Linked DNA regions of Homo sapiens: regions 1, 2, 4 and 5 are each reported to be linked to region 3. Evidence: microRNA targets listed by miRTarBase, many of them from high-throughput screens and not tested one by one. Region 3 holds a microRNA gene; each other region holds the end of a gene's coding sequence.

The links. The annotated mature microRNA hsa-miR-485-5p reads AGAGGCUGGCCGUGAUGAAUUC and lies in region 3 at 1,797-1,818, opposite strand. An mRNA with a match to its seed (bases 2 to 7 or 8) in the 3' UTR can be bound and repressed. Matches are read on the target gene's strand: a 7mer-m8 pairs with bases 2 to 8, a 7mer-A1 pairs with bases 2 to 7 and ends in A, and an 8mer does both.
Region 1: the mRNA of NFAT5 is a reported target of hsa-miR-485-5p. The part of its 3' UTR that is shown has no 7-base or 8-base seed match.
Region 2: the mRNA of BAZ2A is a reported target of hsa-miR-485-5p. Seed matches in the 3' UTR shown: 7mer-m8 at 2,028-2,034, 8mer at 2,226-2,233, 7mer-m8 at 2,434-2,440 and 7mer-A1 at 3,378-3,384.
Region 4: miRTarBase lists PAQR7 as a target of hsa-miR-485-5p. Seed matches in the 3' UTR shown: 7mer-m8 at 1,958-1,964.
Region 5: miRTarBase lists SCARF1 as a target of hsa-miR-485-5p. Seed matches in the 3' UTR shown: 7mer-m8 at 1,504-1,510.

What each region holds. Positions count from the first base shown.
Region 1 is chr16:69,694,557-69,698,444 of GRCh38, forward strand. It overlaps NFAT5 (nuclear factor of activated T cells 5), which reads left to right. Exons shown (of 15, transcript NM_138713.4): 14 at 580-823; 15 at 1,804-3,888. The coding sequence ends at 815. Among named protein-coding and RNA genes, the nearest start is that of SNORD13H, 12 kb to the right of the region's middle.
Region 2 is chr12:56,596,093-56,599,825 of GRCh38, reverse strand. BAZ2A (bromodomain adjacent to zinc finger domain 2A) reads left to right here. Exons shown (of 29, transcript NM_001300905.2): 26 at 1-124; 27 at 468-697; 28 at 815-958; 29 at 1,043-3,733. The coding sequence ends at 1,208. RBMS2 (RNA binding motif single stranded interacting protein 2) reads right to left here. Exons shown (of 14, transcript NM_002898.4): 14 at 3,633-3,733. Among named protein-coding and RNA genes, the nearest start is that of BAZ2A, 32 kb to the left of the region's middle.
Region 3 is chr14:101,053,357-101,057,244 of GRCh38, reverse strand. It overlaps MIR485 (microRNA 485), which reads right to left and starts at 1,826; the gene lies at 1,754-1,826. MIR382 (microRNA 382) reads right to left here and starts at 2,939; the gene lies at 2,864-2,939. It overlaps MIR134 (microRNA 134), which reads right to left and starts at 2,558; the gene lies at 2,486-2,558. MIR668 (microRNA 668) reads right to left here and starts at 1,987; the gene lies at 1,922-1,987. It also overlaps MIR323B.
Region 4 is chr1:25,859,954-25,863,841 of GRCh38, forward strand. It overlaps PAQR7 (progestin and adipoQ receptor family member 7), which reads right to left. Exons shown (of 3, transcript NM_178422.6): 3 at 1,531-3,888. The coding sequence starts at 3,886. The coding sequence ends at 2,846. Among named protein-coding and RNA genes, the nearest start is that of AUNIP, 2.4 kb to the left of the region's middle. RefSeq lists enhancers at 1-410, 2,695-3,464 and a silencer at 262-321.
Region 5 is chr17:1,631,906-1,635,793 of GRCh38, reverse strand. SCARF1 (scavenger receptor class F member 1) reads left to right here. Exons shown (of 11, transcript NM_003693.4): 11 at 177-1,936. The coding sequence ends at 1,036. Among named protein-coding and RNA genes, the nearest start is that of SLC43A2, 5.0 kb to the right of the region's middle.

The DNA.
Region 1 (3,888 bases), not on the chromosome of region 3:
TATAGTTGTTTTAAGAGTACAGATTGTAGTTAGAACTCTATCACCTATAGACTATAAGATCTTGTACAAGTTATTTGGCTTTTATGGGTCTCAATTCTCTCATTTAAAATGGTGATAATATTACATACTTTACATGGATTTGGGGAGGATTAAATATGGCAATGTATAAAAATGTGTGTTTGCCATTTTAAGCTATAAACTTAAAAGGAAAATGAAGTCAGAATGACAGATAATACCTTACCCAGTTGAAGTAAGTAGTTTCTAAGGAGGTAGAAACTCATCTTTAATGTTTATATACCAAGGAATTTATATAGGACTTTTGATATTTAAGCAAAGTTGTATTTTTAGACTGCTTAAAGGAAACCTAAGATGAATTCCAGTGCCAGTCTGTGAAAACCTTTTTCTTGGACTATCAGGTGCCTAACTTTTAGTAATATACAAGGAGAATGCAGTAATGAATTTTCCCCAACAACTAATAAATATCTTTTCATGAATCTTTACTAATCAGATAGCTTCTATTTTTAATGTTTCTGCAGACTGTAGTCAGCTTTTAAGCTTCTGTTTTCAATGTCTCTGCAGACTGTAGTCAGCTTTTAACCTCTGGACCAGCTACATTGCCTGATCAGTTGATGGCCATAAGTCAGCCAGGCCAACCACAAAACGAGGGCCAGCCACCTGTGACAACACTTCTTTCTCAGCAAATGCCAGAGAATTCTCCACTGGCATCCTCTATAAACACCAACCAGAACATCGAAAAGATTGATTTGCTTGTTTCATTGCAAAACCAAGGGAACAACTTGACTGGCTCCTTTTAACTGGATATGTAAGTATTGCATTTTGGCTTCTTATTGAAAAGCATCAGATTTTATTCTTCTTAACAGATTTAGGTTAAGTAATAGTAGTTCTAATCTTTTAAAATGTGGCTTTCTCACAAGATGATACTTTTTTACTCTGAATAAAATTATTCTGAATGATAGCTTATGGTCATATAGTTAATACAGACCAGGCCGGGCGTGGTGGCTCATGCCTGTAATCCCAGCACTTTGAGAGACCAAGGTGGGCGGATCACGAGGTCAGGCGATCGAGACCATCCTGGCTAACATGGTGAAACCCCGTCTCTACTAAAAAATACAAAAAAAAAAAAAAATACAGACCAAACATCCCTAGTCCAAAAATCCAAAATCCAAAATGCTCTGAAATCCGAATCTTTTTGAGTGCTGACATGACATCTCAAGTGGAAAATTCCACACCTAACCTCATATGATAGGGTCATAGTCAAAAGTCAGGCTCACAACATGCAGTTTATTTGGTGTCCCCAAGGGTAAAAAAGATCCTTCCAGCTCCCTTCAGCTGTGATAGATTTTTTTAGGTGTATGTGAAACAGAAGTGAATTTCATGTTTGGACTTGTGTCTTATCCCCAAGATATCTCATTGTGTATATGTGCATATTCCAAAATCCAAAAAAGAAATCAGAAACACTTCTGATCCCAAACATTTTAGATAAGGGATACTCAACCTATATTGGACATTCCTTCTGCCTCTGAGCTTCTTTGCCTTGGAATAACAAAACATCTGATGAGTATGCAAAATGTGTTTCCTTTGTACTATATATTGGATATAACCATGCCTCACTTATCCCTTCCTCCAGAAATAAATATTGAGTCAGAAAAGTCTGTGGAAGATCAAATATGATAAAGTTTTACTTACAGTACCATAATATACTTTAGGATCATTCAGGGTGTCAGAAACTTTATAAATGCTTCCCTCCCTAGTAAGTTAAATTAAACTTTTTCTCTTTTTTAGAAATTCCACGAAGAAAATCCTGATTCCAAGATGTCCTGAGATCTTGTGGTTCCATGAGAATTATTACTTTAAAAACAAAACAAAATATAAAAAACTGTGTTTGAGTAAACTGATAGATTTTACTCTGACTGCAAAAGAGCACACCTATGCTGCTTGTTGCAGTAACTAACCACCAATGTTAACATCTTCATATTTTATATTCCTAATAACAGTGATGACTGAGAATCTATTTGAGTTTCCAGCTGGCAGAATTAATTGTTATTATTTTCCTAGGCGCAATTTCCTTAAACGTACAGTTTAAATTCAAGGCTGGACCACTCAGTTATTATTGCTATTAGAAAATAATATATCATGTTTACTTTTGTTCTTCATTATTTTCTTTCCTGCATTGTTTTAGTCAAGTAATGGCTTTTGAAAAAGTAAAGTTCAATAATAACTAAGGCTGTGATTTTTTTCAATATAAAAGGCACAGCTGTTGGCCAAAGTGAAGGAATCTTTTTTCAGTTTTATTGGAGAAACTGAAGGGTAACATTCTAACAAGTAAACTGTATGTGCAGATAAAAGTACTCTTGATTTAACACAAAGGCAGATGATACACTTATAAAACTGGGAACAGCTGGAATGCTTCTTGATTTTATTTTTTCAGAGAGTTGTTAGTTCTCTGGGTTTCTACTAAGGGGTTTAGCCATAACTGTGCATAGAAAAATAATTATCTGTAAAAAATGAAGGGGATAATATATGATAAATTATGTTCTGATATCCTCCTACAGTAGTTTAAATTGACAGAAAAATTTGAATGTTTTCTTCTTAACCCAGTCTTAGGCTGGTATTCCCTTTTTATATATATCTATATTACTTTTCACCTCTTTTTCACTTTACTTTAGAGAACTATTAATATACTACTGGCTTCATGACCCTGTAGCATCTTTGGCCACTTTAATCTAGGGTGACCTAGCAATCCTGCAGCACAGGGCAGAGAGTACTGTCTTAGGAATTATTAGGAGTTGATTCCTGAGAAACAACACATTTTTCCCCATGAACGGTGCTGTTCTGAAGTCTTCAAATTTTTCCCTCTAATAGGAAACAGTATAAATTTTAATTAAAAAAAAAAGGCAAACTAAAATTTCTTGAAATATCACTTCTCCCTGATCTGCAGTGAGTATAAATTCACTTGTCACCTCAGTGCTTTACAGTTTGAAGTGGTCACTTACCTGATGGTTCCCACAAGCCTTAGGCTTTACAGGGTTGTATCATTGACTTAAAATGAAGAATTAACTTGTGTTACATCTATAAAGAGCAAAATAACACACTCCAGAACTTGGCAGTTGTAGCATTAGTTATACAGTTTTGGGTGTTCTTGCCACCCGTGGGATGCCTGCTTCTCACTACCACCTGTGTCTGGACACATGCTTATGTCTCATTTTCCTTTTGGCATGTGGAAAGCTGTCAATGCAGTGTAAGGCCAACGTGTGTGTGGCTTCTATGTGTTGAGATAATGTTTTGGTATCCTTGTCCGTTTCATTTATTTTTTAAGTGTACAAAAAATAACCTGTTAATTGTTGAAGGCTACTTTTCTGTTCTTTTTTTTTTTTTTTTTCTATCCTGTACATTTAGTTGAACTGTGCGGAATTGTGGTGTTGGTTTTGTTTACACAGCCAGATTTTTCCTTCTTTTTGTTTTGTGATGATCTTCCTTTGTTCTTTGAATGTGCTCTTTTGTCTTTTTCTCTTTTTTCTCATGTTTTCTTCCCTCCACCTCCACCCCTTTCTTTCTTTCTCTCTCTGATTGAGAGGCATTGAATTACGTTTTCAGTAGTACAGGCTTCTTGCCGATATGAAGGGAACTTTTCAGAAAGAGACCTACTCTGGGTCATTTAATTTTGAATACAGTTTTCAATCGTTCAAGTTTTGGATGGTTTATATCTAATGTGTGTTTCATTTTTTTGGAAAGCTATATTTTGTATTTAGGAAATGGTATACTATTTTGCTATTTGTACTGAGTGAGTACATTGGCATAAATATAGAAATTTATATATATACATATATATAAACTATTCTTTTTTGCCACACATTTTTGTGGTAAATT
Region 2 (3,733 bases), not on the chromosome of region 3:
TGACAATGATGAGTTTCTTCTGCTTTGTGATGGGTGTGACCGTGGCTGCCACATTTACTGCCATCGTCCCAAGATGGAGGCTGTCCCAGAAGGAGATTGGTTCTGTACTGTCTGTTTGGCTCAGGTAAGGCTTCTGCTCTTTCTTTCCCACACTCAAACAGAAATCAGAGATTATCCTCAATCTCTCCTCTCCTTGGAAAGAGTCCTAGACTGGGTATTAGGGGACCTGGGTTCTAAGTCCTTTTTTGGACAAGTCACTTAAATTCTATAGCTTTAATTGCTGTCTCTATAAAATGAGAATAACTATACCTTCCCTTTTACCTACTTCATTGGGTTATGTGAATAAACCAATGCCGGCTTATGCATGATAGTATTTTGAAGCCTTAAATCATATTTAGGCAGAGATTGTAGTAGGGCAAGCAGTGCATCTCCAGCTGTTGCTAATCTCACCTGTTTCCTATACTAAGCAGGTGGAGGGAGAATTCACTCAGAAGCCTGGTTTCCCAAAGCGTGGCCAGAAGCGGAAAAGTGGTTATTCGCTGAACTTCTCAGAGGGTGATGGCCGCCGACGCCGGGTACTGTTGAGGGGCCGAGAAAGCCCAGCAGCAGGGCCTCGGTACTCGGAAGAAGGGCTCTCCCCCTCCAAGCGGCGGCGACTCTCTATGCGGAACCACCACAGTGATCTCACATTTTGCGAGTGAGTTGAGTGAATCCTGGGGGGACAGTTGGCTCTACCTCTGCCAGAGGAAAGGGCTGGGAGGGGTCAGTATATTTGCTTCCTGAGATGGAGCCATCATTGTCCCTCTAATGATAGGATTATCCTGATGGAGATGGAGTCCCATGATGCAGCCTGGCCTTTCCTAGAGCCTGTGAACCCACGTTTGGTGAGTGGGTACCGGCGCATCATCAAAAATCCTATGGATTTTTCCACCATGCGGGAGCGGCTGCTCAGGGGAGGGTAAGTAGATGTGGGTGAACCGCCCGGTCTTTGCTACTGCTGCAACTCCTACCCAGCTCACAGTTTTGCCCCTGCCCTGTCCAGGTACACCAGCTCAGAGGAGTTTGCGGCTGATGCCCTCCTGGTATTTGACAACTGCCAGACTTTCAACGAGGATGACTCTGAAGTAGGCAAGGCTGGGCACATCATGCGCCGCTTCTTCGAGAGCCGCTGGGAGGAGTTTTATCAGGGAAAACAGGCCAATCTGTGAGGCAAGGGAGGTGGGGAGTCACCTTGTGGCATCTCCCCCCACCTTCCAAACAAAAACCTGCCATTTTCACCTGCTGATGCTGCCCTGGGTCCAGACTCAAGTCAGATACAACCCTGATTTTTGACCTTGCCCTTGGCAGTGCCCCACATCCTCTTATTCCTACATCCCTTTCTCCCTTCCCTCCTCTTGCTCCTCAAGTAAGAGGTGCAGAGATGAGGTCCTTCTGGACTAAAAGCCAAAAAAAGAAAGAAAAAAATAATTTTTCTTTTCTGTTTTATTTGCTAATTAAAAATGGGGAGGGGGAAAGTCGTCCCTACTTCCTCCTCCCTGCTTCCTCTCCTCCCCTGTACGTGCCCCAGCATTCTGGGGTTATTTAACAATAGCAATAGTTCTAGTGAATGTGTGAAACCAAGAAACACTCTGTACTGTGTGCGGACCCGCAGTGACGGCCAGTAAAGTGGACTTAACTCCCAAGTGTGTCGCGCCGGACACCGGGCCCTGGACATGCTGCTTCCATGTTCAGTCCCTTCCCTGCTTCTCGCTGTCTTTCTTTTCCCACCTCCCACCCCCCAGTTTTCAGATTTTCTCTCATCCAATAATGTAAAACTATCGTGTACGGGTTCCTCCCTCCTTTTCTCTTCTCCCAAATCTTTTCCCTTCAAAGGAAAAAAAAATGTTCAGAGGTCCCTGTCTTCTGTCCCCATCTTCCTGCCGATAGCTATCCCCTGTATGATGTTGGATGCTCCTCACATGCTGAGTTTCCAGCCTTTTCTGAAACTCAGTAGCTGGGGAGAGGGCAGGGAGGCTTCCTGGGCCTTCCAGCCTCCTTCCCCACCTCCTTCCCAAACCCTCTTGGGAACTCCTCAGGGACAACTACTGCTGAGTTTGGGTGCACCCTAAGATGGAGGCCAGGTAGCAATGGGGCCGGCCTCAGAGAGAGCGCTGTGTGTGTGTGTGTGTGTGTGTGTGTGTGTGTGTGTCGGCCTCAGAGCGCGCTGTGTGTGTGTGTGTGTGTGTCAGCCTCAGAGCGCGCGCTGTGTGTGTGTGTGTGTGTGCGTGCTTGTGACCCTGTATTGTTTGATAGGATCCATTCAGTTTCCCCAAGTACCTGTTTTCATTCCCATTTTTCCCATTGTTTAAAACCATCACTTTTTTGTCTTTGGGAAACCACAGGAACAATTTCTCTGGAGACAAGGCTGTGTCTCTCTCCTGGTCATTTTTGTTCCAGCCTCTTCAGACTGTGCAATCTTTCAGCAGGAACTCCCTCTCTTCTCGGTAGCTTTGAATCTTAAGCTTCTACGGGAGAGTGGTAGAACTGGATCATTTCCTAATCCCATTTAGTTGTGCTTTTCTTCATTTACTTCATACCCCAGGACCCCTTCCCCAGCAGCAGAGACCCTGGAGCACAGGAGAGTAGGGAGGAGGGGTTCTGGGTCCATCACTGCCCTACATGTGACTATGTCCAAGTTAAGCCCCCAACACGAGAGGAAAGCTGCTGACTCCCAGCTATAGCCATGGGCACTTGGCCCCCTGCTTTTCCTGCTCAGCAGAGCCCCTCCCTTCAGAGATTACGGGTACTTGCACTGGGGAGGTGGCTGCTGGCTGGCCCAAGCAGAGAGCTGAGGCATCCAAGAAATGTTCCATTGGGGGGTGGGGGTGCCAGGTGAGGTGGAGCATTCCTTGTATTCTGGCAGCACTGAAGAGCCACTGAAGGGGGTAGGGGCAGTGTAGGTCCTGGGGCAGCCCCTTTATTCCTTTATGCCCCTTCTCCCTCATAGCCTATTTCTAAAGTCGCCTTTTCTGTCAGATAAACCTCAAAACTTTTAATTTTATTTGAGATTTTTTTTTGCTTTTAAGAGGTGGATTGAAGAATATTTGAATTGACTTTATATTATGCATAAATATTTATATTTTATCTAAATAACTGCGCTGTAACAAACTTTGTGTTAGACAGTTGAAACTGTTAGAGTTGGGGGCTCTGCTTTTTCCCCCTGGCAATTTTCCCCTGGTATAAGATGTGCTAGATTAATTTCATTGTGAGGTGGATGGGGGAGTGAAATTGTGAGGTGGATGGGGGAGTGAAATCTCCATGGTTCCTGCTTTGTGTTCCTCTCCCAGCTCCATCTCTTTCCCTAGGGACCAGGCACTCATATGGCGGGGTGGGGTCCTAGCCTCAGTTTGAAGAAGTGGGGGCTGGAGCGGGGTTGGGGGTGGTAGGGATAGGGCATGATCAAAGGGGCCATTTCTTGCTTTTCTTTCCTCATCTTCACTGCCCCCTTGAGCTAGGTGGATTTTCTCTTCATGACAAGAGTATTTGGTAGGGAAAGCAGGTTTAAAATAAAAAGACAACCCACCCCCTGCCCTTTTGCTTCCCTCCCATCAGTCTGGTTGACAGGAAGAAACCACACCATCAACACCAACAAGTTTCTGTGTTCCTTTTACAGCAAAAGGGACTTTTTATATAACCAAATGTGGTGTTTTAGTGACTTTTTGATAATGTACAGTTTTTTGTGAATTTAAATTTA
Region 3 (3,888 bases):
GCAAAGGAAGAATAAGAATGCTGACTTCTTTATCTTTCTGAACTAGGAGTGAAATTGAAATAGTTAAAAACCATAACAATCCTAACCACTTAATTTTTACACTCTAATTTTTCTTAATTTTACAGGGATCTTTTAGGAGTTGCTACCTGTGGTGGTAAAGCGAGAAACATTTATCAATCATTTCAATCTCCTTTAGCTTGTTTTTTATGATAAATTCAAGGAAAATTATAGTTAGCATTTTTAATAAAATGATTAGGTACAGTGTGATCTCATATTTTCCCTGCGTCTGTCTTGTTTTTCTATTTGCATGTATGCTCAGACAGGTGTATGAAATTTCTAAAGCCCTTAATGGTTATTTCTGGGTGCCAGAGAATTGGGCAATTTTCCTTCTTTTTCATTTAGATTTTTCCACATCGCTTGAATTTTATTAAGCATGTGTCATTTTCATAAATATGGTAATAAGGTAGAATAATTATCCTTTTTGAAAAGAAAAACAAGAAATTGAAAATGCAACTGTCTTCTGTTCTTAAATTTGCTGTGGCCTCCAGATCAACAGATGTGGTGAGTCACCCTTCCAGTGAGTCCCCAAGAATGCTGAAATCAACGCCCCTTCCCTGAATTTGTCAACATGTCTAAGAAGTCCTTCCTCCATGGTAAGATTTAATAGTGAAAGAGAAGAGAACTATACATTGTTTTTCTTTAAAAAAAAACACAAAACCCCAGAAGCATCATGGGCACCACCACTTCCTCAGTCACAGAGGGGTCTTGAGCACAGATCACATGCTTCTTCCCCAGGAATGCACTGGCTGAGGATTAGGAGTGCTAGCAGCACCTACCCATTGGTTCCAGGGCCACACACATGTTCAGTTGCACTGGTGTGGAACCAACATGAGTATGGTGTCCCCTAAATCGGCATCAGGTCCAAGAAGACACCTGGTGAGATCTGATACCGAAAAGAGGTCGACCGTGTATTGGGCATCATTAAATAATGCGAACTCACCACGGACAACCTCCCTCCGAGTACCATGAGGTGGCACTGCTCGCAGCATTCCTGCATCTTCTGCACAGCCTGGGCAGCTTGGGAGTGGCCTCTGAGGGTGGATGGGACCCTGAGGATGAGTGGACCAGGTGGCTCAAACCCATGCTCTCCGGCCAACCCCAGGTTCACCAAGCCAGGATTAGTGTGCACAGAAATACCACTTCTTGTGCTCAGCTGGCCATGCAGGCAACATTTAATAATGCAAGGATGTCAGTGGCACAGGAGTCATTAAATATGAAGCAAACCACACACAAATGTGTGTGCAAAAGCAGGCTAAGCACTGCCTCCTTGGTAAACCTGGGATTCCCTTACAGGAATTCTCTGGAGGGTGTAAGGCTGCTGTGGGTTAGTAAACCAGGGGTCGCACAGAGTCCTGTTCCTGTTTTCTTCTGTATCCCGACGGCTGACTAATAAAAGATGCTTCTAGATGCCCAAGATTCAACTCCAAGGTTGAATTTGATAGGAATAAAAAAAGAAGTCAGCCATGTGTATTTCAATCTTAACTTTTAAAAAATTAGGGCATCCCAACAACCTCTCTCGATTTTCCTAAAGTTGGTAGTGCCCCAGGAAGTTGTTTTAGGGTCAGCTTGGACTCTAAAGTTAGTAGGTCAGTTACATGCATCCTCAGGAAAATGCTTGCCATGGGGTCAGCCATCCAGAAACCTACCTTGGAAGCAGCACTGGCTCAGGAAGCCCTCCGAGGCAGAATTTGACACTAAAAGAGAGGAGAGCCGTGTATGACTCGCTTTGATGAATCGAATTCATCACGGCCAGCCTCTCTCCAAGTACCACACATGAACACTGGTGAGAAATCCATTGCCTCTCTGGCAGAGGTGGCCGCCCTTCTCGGGAGTCCTGTTAGGAATGGGTGGGATAGTATTGGGTAGTGGGCCGAGCCGAGTGACATACACCCACATTAAGTGCATGCTCACCCGAGGCGCACTTACCTTAAGGGAGTGCTGAGGGCACTGCCTTCTCCCCAGCAGCAAGGATGCAGTTCGTCCTTCCAGACAAGACAGGGAGCTTTTGCGTAGCTCACTGGTCCCTGACAGGAGAATCATGGCCGCTTCCCAAAGCCGCATTATCTCCATGGAGCCTCCTAGGGAGAGACAGGATGCTGGGTATTAGAGGACGACGTGACAGACCTAACAAAGGCAGCACATGCTCTGGGAAGAAGGATTCAGTCACACACCCAGGAGAAAAGCTGGCCCACATCAGGTCCCTCAACAGAAGACAACATGGCGTCCCACATCGGAAGTCAACACTTCAAGGAGGCTGTCACAGTGGTGAAGGGGCTGCCAAGGCTGACTCATTGCATTTTAAGTAAACATACACCCCCAAGAGCACGTGTCATCGCAGTCCACCAAGCAGTCACAGCAAGTCCATGGCCGCTTCCCCAGAGTTGGTGGGAGCTCTGGAAAGTCTTCCTGGAGTGGGAGTGATGCTGAGGGTTGGTGACTAGGTGGCCCACAGGGTGAACACAGTGCATGCCCCTCTGGTCAACCAGTCACACACCCTGGACGGTGCTGACACCAACATCTCTTCTGGAAGTCGGCCTGGGGCCCAGGGAGCCTCTCTTCAAAGTCTTGTGAGGTGACGCTGGTGACAGAACCACAGCTGATTCCCCAGAGTTGGTGAGACCCATGGGAAGACCTCCTATAGGTGCATGGGAGGCTCGGATTATCGGGCCAGGTGACTTACAGCTAGGTCAGCGCATTGTCCATGGCCCGCCATCCATTCTTGGCTTTTCCACATGGTTGACACAAAGACTATCTTTCCTGAAGCTGCCATTGTGTCCAGGAAGTCCTTAGAGGTAGCATTTGGTACTGAAAAAAGTGTTGTCCGTGAATGATTCGTCATAAGTAAAGCGAATCCACCACGAACAACTTCTCTTCAAGTACCACAGAAAAGCAGAGACAAGACAGACAAGGAGTCCCCTTCCACTTCTCCAAGGGGAGTGGCTGCCAACCACCATCCTGTGGACAGAGTGGACACCGAGCATTAGTGAGGCAGCTTACGGGTGTCCTAGGAACACACTGGAGTTTGGGCAACCCTTCACTCACCTCCCTTGGAGTGGTGCTGGCACAGTCCCCCTTCCCTGGAGTTGAAATTGTGGTCCTGAATCCACACGCACAAGGTTTAGAAATAAGAAGAGGGAAGCCACTTGTCACACGCCAGGAGCACTCCGCAGTGTGTAGACCCCAGGGTTTCTGAACAGGGCCTTGGACTTCTCAACAGAGCACACTGAGTTATCCATCAAGCACATCAAGGTGCCAGCCAGGCTCCCGCAGGGCCCACTGAACTAGGGAGGTCCAGAGGGGGCCCCCTTTTGCCACTGCAGGTGCCCCTAGAGAAACTGCCCAGCTCAGGCACGCCAGGCTCCTGGTAGGTTCCCCATCACTGCCCTGGGTAGATTCTCTATCAATGCCCTTGTGGTCAGAGTGATCTTTCCAACACAGACCACGCATCCCCCCTGCTCACAACCCTTCCAAATCCCCCATCTCACTCAGAATAAAACCTGGAGTCCTGCCTCTCCCAGCTCAGACCCAGCGACTCCCAGCAGCTCGGTTCAATCCCACTGGCCTTCTTGCTTTTTCTTAAAGATGCCAGGGGGCTTTCCATGGGCCTTGCCCTCCTCCTGAAATGCTCCTACCCCAGACCTTCCTCTGGTCCACCCCACTCCATTCCCACCCACATCCTCAGAGAGAGCTTTCCAGACCCCTGTATTTAACACAAAGGTCCACCTGCTTTTACCTCTTTCTGTCACTGTAACCCGCTTTCCCTTTCCCCATAAAACCTAGCAGTGGACAAAATTACGCTTCCTAATTCATGTGTTCTCATCCGTCTCT
Region 4 (3,888 bases), not on the chromosome of region 3:
AGGAACTAGATTTCAGTCCTGCTTTCACCGTTTACTGTGCCTTGGATTTTAAAGAGGATCAAATGAGGTTGTGAAAGTACTTTGTGAATTCAGAAAACCCCTTGGAAATGCAAAAATGTTGGCACCCCCACCCATCCTTCCGTCCCTAACCACAATCTCCATAGATGGAATATATGTACATTATACGTAATGTTTACATATTGTATATGTAAAAAAAATTTTTTTTTGAGACGGAGTCTCACTGTCGCCCAGGCTGGAGTGCAGTGGCGCTATCTCGGCTCACTGCAGCCCCGCCTCCTGGGTTCAAGCGGTTCTTCTGTCTCAGCCTCCCTAGTAGCTGGAAGTACAGGCGCACGCCACCACACCCAGCTAATTTTTGTATTTTTAGTAGAGACGGGGTTTCACCATTGGCCAGGCTGGTCTCGAACTCCTGACCTCGTGATACGCCTGCCTCAGCCTCCCAAAGTGCTGGGATTACAGGCATGAGCCACCGCGCCCGGCCAAAAATTTTGTAATTTTTTTTTTTTGGTGGAGGGAGGATAGAAGCTCAGCCACCTCTTGCCCAGTCTGCAGCAGGTCAGCCAGGAACCTCAACCATCTCTGCAGCCAGAGCCTGTCTTCATGGTGGACAGAGCCATCTCGCTTTGTCACCCAGGCTCGGGTACAGTGGCACAGTCTCAGCTCACTGCAGCCTCAACCTCTTGGGCTCAAGCGATCCTGCCACCTCAGCCTCCCAAGTAGCTGGGACTACAGGTGTGTGCCACCACGCCTGGCTAATTTTTGTATTTTTAGTAGAGATGGGTTTTCGCCATGTTGGCCAGACTGGTCTCAACTTCCTGCCCTCAGGTGATATGCCTGCCTCAGCCTCCCAAAGTGCTGGGATTACAAGCGTGAGTCACCATGCCTGGCCTATATCAAAATATTTATTTATATACACATATTTTATGTGTGTGTGTGTGTGTGTGTGTGTGTGTGTGTGTGTGTGTATTTCATAAGGTCCCCCATGATATTTCAGCAGTGAAGTGATATTTCTAATTAATTTGGGTTTTCTTATCTTCCCAATTTTCCTTCATTGTATATATATTGCTGTGTACTATGGAAAAAGCAATATTATAAAAGTTAACATACTTCTTCGGTGCGCATGCGACGAGGCTCAATATGTGTGGTGGAGTGTGCACGCCCCTGCCCCCTCCACTAAAAACAAAACAAAAAAACCCTCCTTAATTGAAGGAAAAACCAAACAAAAAAAGTCTTTGTCAGATCATAAAGTGGGATTATCATATTTTAAACACATTATTTTAACTACTTATAAAACTTTAGTAATAAAACTGCCGCCCACTCCCTTGCCAAACAAATTTTGTATATATAGATATGGTATATAAGGCCCCAACCCCATCCCCCAGCAAAGATAAAACAAGAACTGCTCCCTGCACCCTGTGTCCACTCCCAGGGGCCCCAGCTTCCTCCGGAAAACCTCCAGTAATGTGAGCAGGGGCCCCTCCCGGAAACAGGAGACAAAAAACAAAGAGGTGGCTACTGTCACAGTACTTTATTGCATCCAGGCCATAATCCAGACCACCCAGCCCCAACCCCACTTTTCCTTCCACACCTCTTGGTCTCTGCACAGGTTTCCCTCTGCCTGGAATGCCCTTCCTATTCTCCATCTGCAAACTCCTATTCACACTCCCCAACCTAAGACCCTGAGGGTCCCAGGCAGCACAGGTTAATCCCTCTCCAGCACCTCCCTTGACAGTTCATTCTGATATCAAAGCCTTTGTCGGCCAGGCGCAGTGGCTCATGCCGGTAATCCCAGCACTTTGGGAGGCCGAGACGGGCAGATCACCTGAGGTCAGGAGTTCAAGACCAGCCTGACCAACATGGAGAAACCCCGTCTCTACTAAAAATACAGAAAATTAGCCAGGCATGGTGGTGCATGCCTGTAACCCCAGCTACTCGGGAGGCTGAGGCAGGAAAATCGCTTGAACCTGGGAGGCGGAGGTGCAGTGAGCCGAGATCGCACCATTTTACTCCAGCCTAGCCAACAAGAGCGAAACTCCTCAAAAAAAAAAAAAAAAAAAAAAAAAAAAAAAGCCTTTGTCATCTTGCATTGATCCACAGGGCCCAGTGGTGACCTGCCTCTGAGCAGAGGCCCAGGAAACACTGAATGGATAAATGAATCCGTAACAAGGGAACCAGGAGAGAAGCTGGGAACAGGCCGTGTGGGACACAGAAGCCAGAGCTAGGAGATCTGGGGCTCACTGTCTGGGATAGTGACTGAAGGAGTATGAAGCACTGGATGGGACCCATTTGTATCTGGCACAATCTACTACCTTTGGGGTCTCTCTGCAGCTCCAACACTTGTGGCTGGGCTTCAAGGGACAGTAAGATCCTGTATATATTTTGGGCCTACCCCTTCCGCATCCAGCAATGAAATCTGAGTAGAAGTAGGTTGCCAAGGCCTCCCCTGGCTCAGCTCAAATCTGACTCTGGCCTAAGTTTCACCTCCTGCCTAGACAATCTAGAAGCCCCAATCCTCACCAAGCTGACCCCCAGCCTCACCCCAGTGAGTGGCAGTGGAAGGGCAAGCTGGAGTGGCCCACACCGTTAACTCTTTCCCTCTCCCTGGGCAAGGAGCTGGGGCAGGCCCAGGAGTGGACCCCAGCAACTCCTAGCCAATCCCTAAATCCAAGAATTGGCCAGTGATGCCCTTGGCAGTTGAGTCGTGCACAGAGAGTCACTGTGGGCCAGACACAAACAACTTTACCAGGCCTTGTTCCCACCTGGAGCCAAACCCAGACCCCTGTCCCCCAACTATACCTCCCTCCCTACCAGATGCCATCCCCCTTCACTTGGTCTTCTGATCAAGTTTGCGCTGTACCAGCTGGCTCAGGAGGAATGCAGTGAGGATGCTGCTGCCCACCGTGAGCAGGAAGAGGCCAGAAAAGTTGTGAGGCCAGTGCGTGTGCAGAGGCTCATAGATGGGCCGTCGGGCCTCATAGTCCAGTGCCACAGCCTCCAGCTGAGCCAGCGTGCACAGCACCAAGAAGATGTGGAAAAGTTGGTGGCCCTGCCCGAAGACATGGCAGCTGCCAGGGAACCAGCGCTCGGGCATGAAGGTAGAGAAGAAGGCAGCAGCCAGCAGAAAGAAGACCACCTGGCACTTGTGGTAGAGAAGAGCTGGATCATCCGTGGTGGGGTCGGAGGACACGAAGATACGATGCACCACAGGACTAATGTCCAGTGCGTAGGCCAGGACGGAGGGCACCTCCTGGCATGTGCGGCCCAGCAGGCCTGGTTTCTGGATGTACTTGTTATAGCAGGAGCCAATGCAGGAAAGCCAGGCGAGAAAGGCAGCCATGGGCAGAAAAACAGCCTGCACCTGGGCATGCCAGGCGGGCTCGATAGCATAGTAGAAGTGTGCCAAGGCACTGCCAAACTGGTACACGGCCACCCCCACATAGTCCAGGAAGAAGAAGCTGTAATGCCAGAACTCAGACTTGGCCTGCAGGAGGTGAGCCAAGGCACTGAAGGAGAGGTAGGTGAAAGAGGCAAGGACAATGATGAAGAGGGGCAGGGCGTGTGGGTCTCCCCAGAAGTCCACGGTCTCCACAAAGAGGGCCAGCCGCAGCAGCAGTACCAGGGCCGCCAGCAGGTGGGTCCAGACATTCACGGCCTCGTTGTGCTGCTGGAACAGCGTGCGGAAATAGAAGCGCCAGGTCTGATGCAGCGGCCGGTAGCCCGCATAGATGTACGGCTTCCAGAAGAGCGGCGGCACCTCAGCTCGATCCACCGTGAAGACAGGCTCTGGCTGCAGAGATAGCTGAGGCTCCTGGATGACCTGCCGCAGACTCGGCAGGAGGTGGCTGAGTTTCTGGGCCATGGCCATGG
Region 5 (3,888 bases), not on the chromosome of region 3:
AAAAAAAAGTGTAGAAGTAACAGTGTCTACCTGAATTGGTCCTTCTGCCACTCTCCTCATCCTTGCCCTCTTCCTTGCCCTATTTTTGAGGCCTCCTGGAAGATGCTGAGCTGTGGGTAGGATGCATTGGGGTGGCCAGTTCAGCTCCAGCCAAGCTCTTCTGTCTCCTCTGCCAGGGATGGTCCCTGTGGCCCAGGCAGGGTCGTCAGAGGCCAGCCTGGCTGCAGGTGCTTTCCCGCCCCCTGAGGACGCCTCCACGCCATTCGCCATCCCGCGCACCTCCAGCCTAGCTCGGGCCAAGCGGCCATCGGTCTCCTTCGCGGAAGGTACCAAGTTTGCACCACAGAGTCGCCGAAGCTCAGGGGAGCTCTCCAGCCCGCTCCGAAAGCCCAAGAGGCTCTCCCGGGGGGCGCAGTCGGGTCCTGAGGGCCGGGAAGCCGAAGAGTCCACAGGCCCAGAGGAAGCAGAAGCCCCCGAGTCCTTTCCGGCGGCTGCCAGTCCCGGGGATTCAGCCACTGGCCACCGGCGGCCCCCACTTGGTGGCCGGACAGTGGCTGAGCACGTGGAAGCCATTGAGGGCAGCGTCCAGGAGAGCTCGGGCCCTGTGACCACGATCTACATGCTGGCAGGGAAGCCCCGCGGATCCGAAGGCCCTGTCCGCTCTGTCTTCCGCCATTTTGGTAGCTTCCAGAAAGGCCAGGCGGAAGCCAAGGTCAAGAGGGCCATCCCTAAGCCTCCGCGCCAGGCCCTGAATCGGAAAAAGGGCAGCCCTGGCCTTGCCTCTGGCTCTGTCGGCCAGAGCCCCAACTCAGCCCCAAAAGCTGGGCTTCCTGGGGCCACAGGGCCTATGGCAGTCAGACCAGAGGAAGCGGTCCGGGGGCTGGGGGCTGGCACCGAGAGTTCAAGGAGAGCCCAGGAGCCAGTCTCTGGCTGTGGCTCCCCAGAACAGGATCCCCAGAAGCAGGCTGAAGAGGAAAGGCAGGAGGAACCTGAGTATGAGAATGTTGTACCCATCTCCAGGCCACCAGAACCCTGATGACCTTGAATTTGGGGAGTGGGGAGAGTGGATGGACTAGACTGTGCTGTGTGCTGGAAAATGATCCCGGGGCCAGGACAGACAAACCAGAGCCTCTGCGCCTCCACAGGGAAAAGGCAAGGCTTCCAGGCCAGTTGGCCCAGGCCCCTGGCAGTGCTCCCGGAGGGGCCCAGGAAGGCCTGGGCAGAGACCCTGTAGGATGGGGTCAGGAAGGGTTGCCTGCAGGGACTTTTGCTCTGCTGTCCTGGACCCTGTGTGCCTCATAAGGGCTATTCTTTCTTTCACGTGCAAAACATTTTTCTGAAATAGCAAACAACCTACATGTTTGCTGATAAAAGATTGGCTAAACAAATTTTTTTTTTTTTTTTTGAGACAGAATCTCCCTCTGTCCCCCAGGCTGGAGTGCAGTGGTGCGATCTCGGCTCACTGCAAGCTCTGCCTCCCGGGTTCACGCCCTTCTCCTGCCTCAGCCTCCCGAGTAGCTGGGACTACAGGTGCCCTCCACCACGCTTGGCTAATTTTTTTGTATATTTAATAGAGACAGGGTTTCACCATGTTAGCCAGGATGGTCTCGATCTCCTGACCTCGTGATCCACCTGCCTCGGCCTCCCAAAGTGCTGGGATGACAGGCATGAGCCACCACGCCTGGTCTATGAACTTTTTAAAAAGGATGTATGTGTATAAAAACAGATTCAAGGGAAAGGCACTAAATGGTTTTTTCCTCTGGAAGATGAGATTGTAGGTGATATTTATTTTCTTCTGAAACTTTTGTATAGTTTGCAAATTTTCTACAGTGAACATTCTTTTTTACTTTTGTTACTAGATTGAATTTGATAAAGTATAATAAAAAGCAATGATCTTTGTTAAAAAAATAAAAAGTACTAACATTACAGACATGTATAAAGTAAAACGGAGATTTCCTTTCTCCCCAGAGGCGTCTGTGGGTCAAGAGAGAGGTAGAATCTACTTTTCCCTGGCAGCTTTTTGGTCTTGTTTGAATTCTTTGCTCACATATTACCTAGTCAGAAAAGAAAAGGGGCAACCCTCCCCCCGAGCTTTATTTTTTTTTTTTTTAAGATGGAGTCTCAGTCTGTCACCCAGGCCGGAGTGCAGTGGTATGATCTCGGCTCACTGCCACCTCTGTCTCCCCGGTTCAAGCGATTCTCCTGCCTCAGCCTCCTGAGTGGCTGGGATTACAAGCGCCCGCCACCATGCCCGGCTAATTTTTGTATTTTTTGGTGGAGACAGGGTTTCACCATGTTGGCCAGGCTGGTCTTGAACTCCCAAACTCAAGGGCTCCACAGCTTCGGCCTCCCAGAGTGTTGGGATTATAGGCATGAGCCACCGCGCCCGGCCAGGGGCAGCCCCTTCTATCTCAGTGCTCAGAGAGTCTCATCAACAGTTGAGGTGCTTTCTTTCAGATGTTTTTCTGTGTACATGTCAACAAATATTTTAAACAAAAAATTTTAGCATACTAAGCATACTGTTCCTCAGCTTCTTTTTTTTTTTTTTTTTTTCTTTTTGAGACGAAGTTTTGCTCTGTTGCCCAGGCTGGAGTGCAGTGGTGCAATCTCAGCTCACTGCAACCTCTGCCTCCCGGGTTCAAGCGATTCTCCTGCCTCAGCCTGCTGAGTAGCTGCAATTACAGGTGTGTGCCACCACACCCAGCTAATTTTTGTATTAGTAGAGATGGGGTTTCACCATGTTGGCCAGGCTGTTCTCGAACTCCTGACCCGCCTTGGTCTCCCGAAGTGCTGGGATTACAAGCGTGAGCCACCGCGGCCAGCCTCAACTTGCTTTTTTACTTAACGACATATCCTGGATATAGTTCAATGTCCATAAATGTAAAGCTAACTCTCTTTATTTAAAAAATGACTACATGAGATTCCATCTAGCACAATTATTTAAATCATTCCCCCGCCAATGGAAGGTTGGGTTGTTCTGATCTGTTTTGATACAATAAGCAATGACATAGTATACAACTTTGTCCATATTTATTTATTTATTTATTTTTTGAGATGGAGTTTCACTCTTGTTGCCCAGGCTGGAGTGCAATGGCACGATCTCAGCTCACTGCAACCTCGGCCTCCTAGGTTCAAGCGATTCTCCTGCCTCAGCCTCTCGAGTAGCCGGGACTACAGGCGCATGCCACCACGTGCAGCTAATTTTTTTGCATTTTTAGTAGAGATGGAGTTTTGCCATGTTGGCCAGGTTGCTCTCGAACTCCTGACCTCAGAAGATCTTCCCACCTTGGCCTCCTAAAGTGCCGAGATTACAGGTGTGAGCCACTGTGCCCAGCCACTAAAGCTTCTAAAAAGTATATATAATTTTTGTGTGTGTGTTTAGCCATCAACAATTATATCTCATTACAATTTAAAGTTCTATGAGTATTCTAAGGTTGTTTCTTTTCCGTCTTGGCTCACTGCAACCTCCGCCTCCCAGGTTCAAGCCATTCTTGTGCCTCAGCCTCCTGAGTAGCTGGAATTACAGGCGCCCACCACCATGCCCAGCTAATTTTTGTACTTTTTGTAGAGATGGGGTTTTGCCATGTTGGCCAGGCTGGTCTCGAACTCCTGACCTCAGGTGATCCACCCACCTCAGCCTCCCAAAGTGCTGGGATTCCAGGTGTGAGCCACCGCACCTGGCCATTTGCCCCTTTTCAGGAGTTCATGTTTTCATTCCACAAACTCATATTGTGCAACTGCTTTGTGCTTGCTTCTCTATCAAGGGCTGGTCATACAAAGTTGAATAAGACACCGTCCTGCCCCCAAAGAGTTCATAGTCAATTAGAGAGGAAGGCAAACAGACGAATAGCTAATTATAAAACAATGCCAGCAGTGGACAAATAAAGT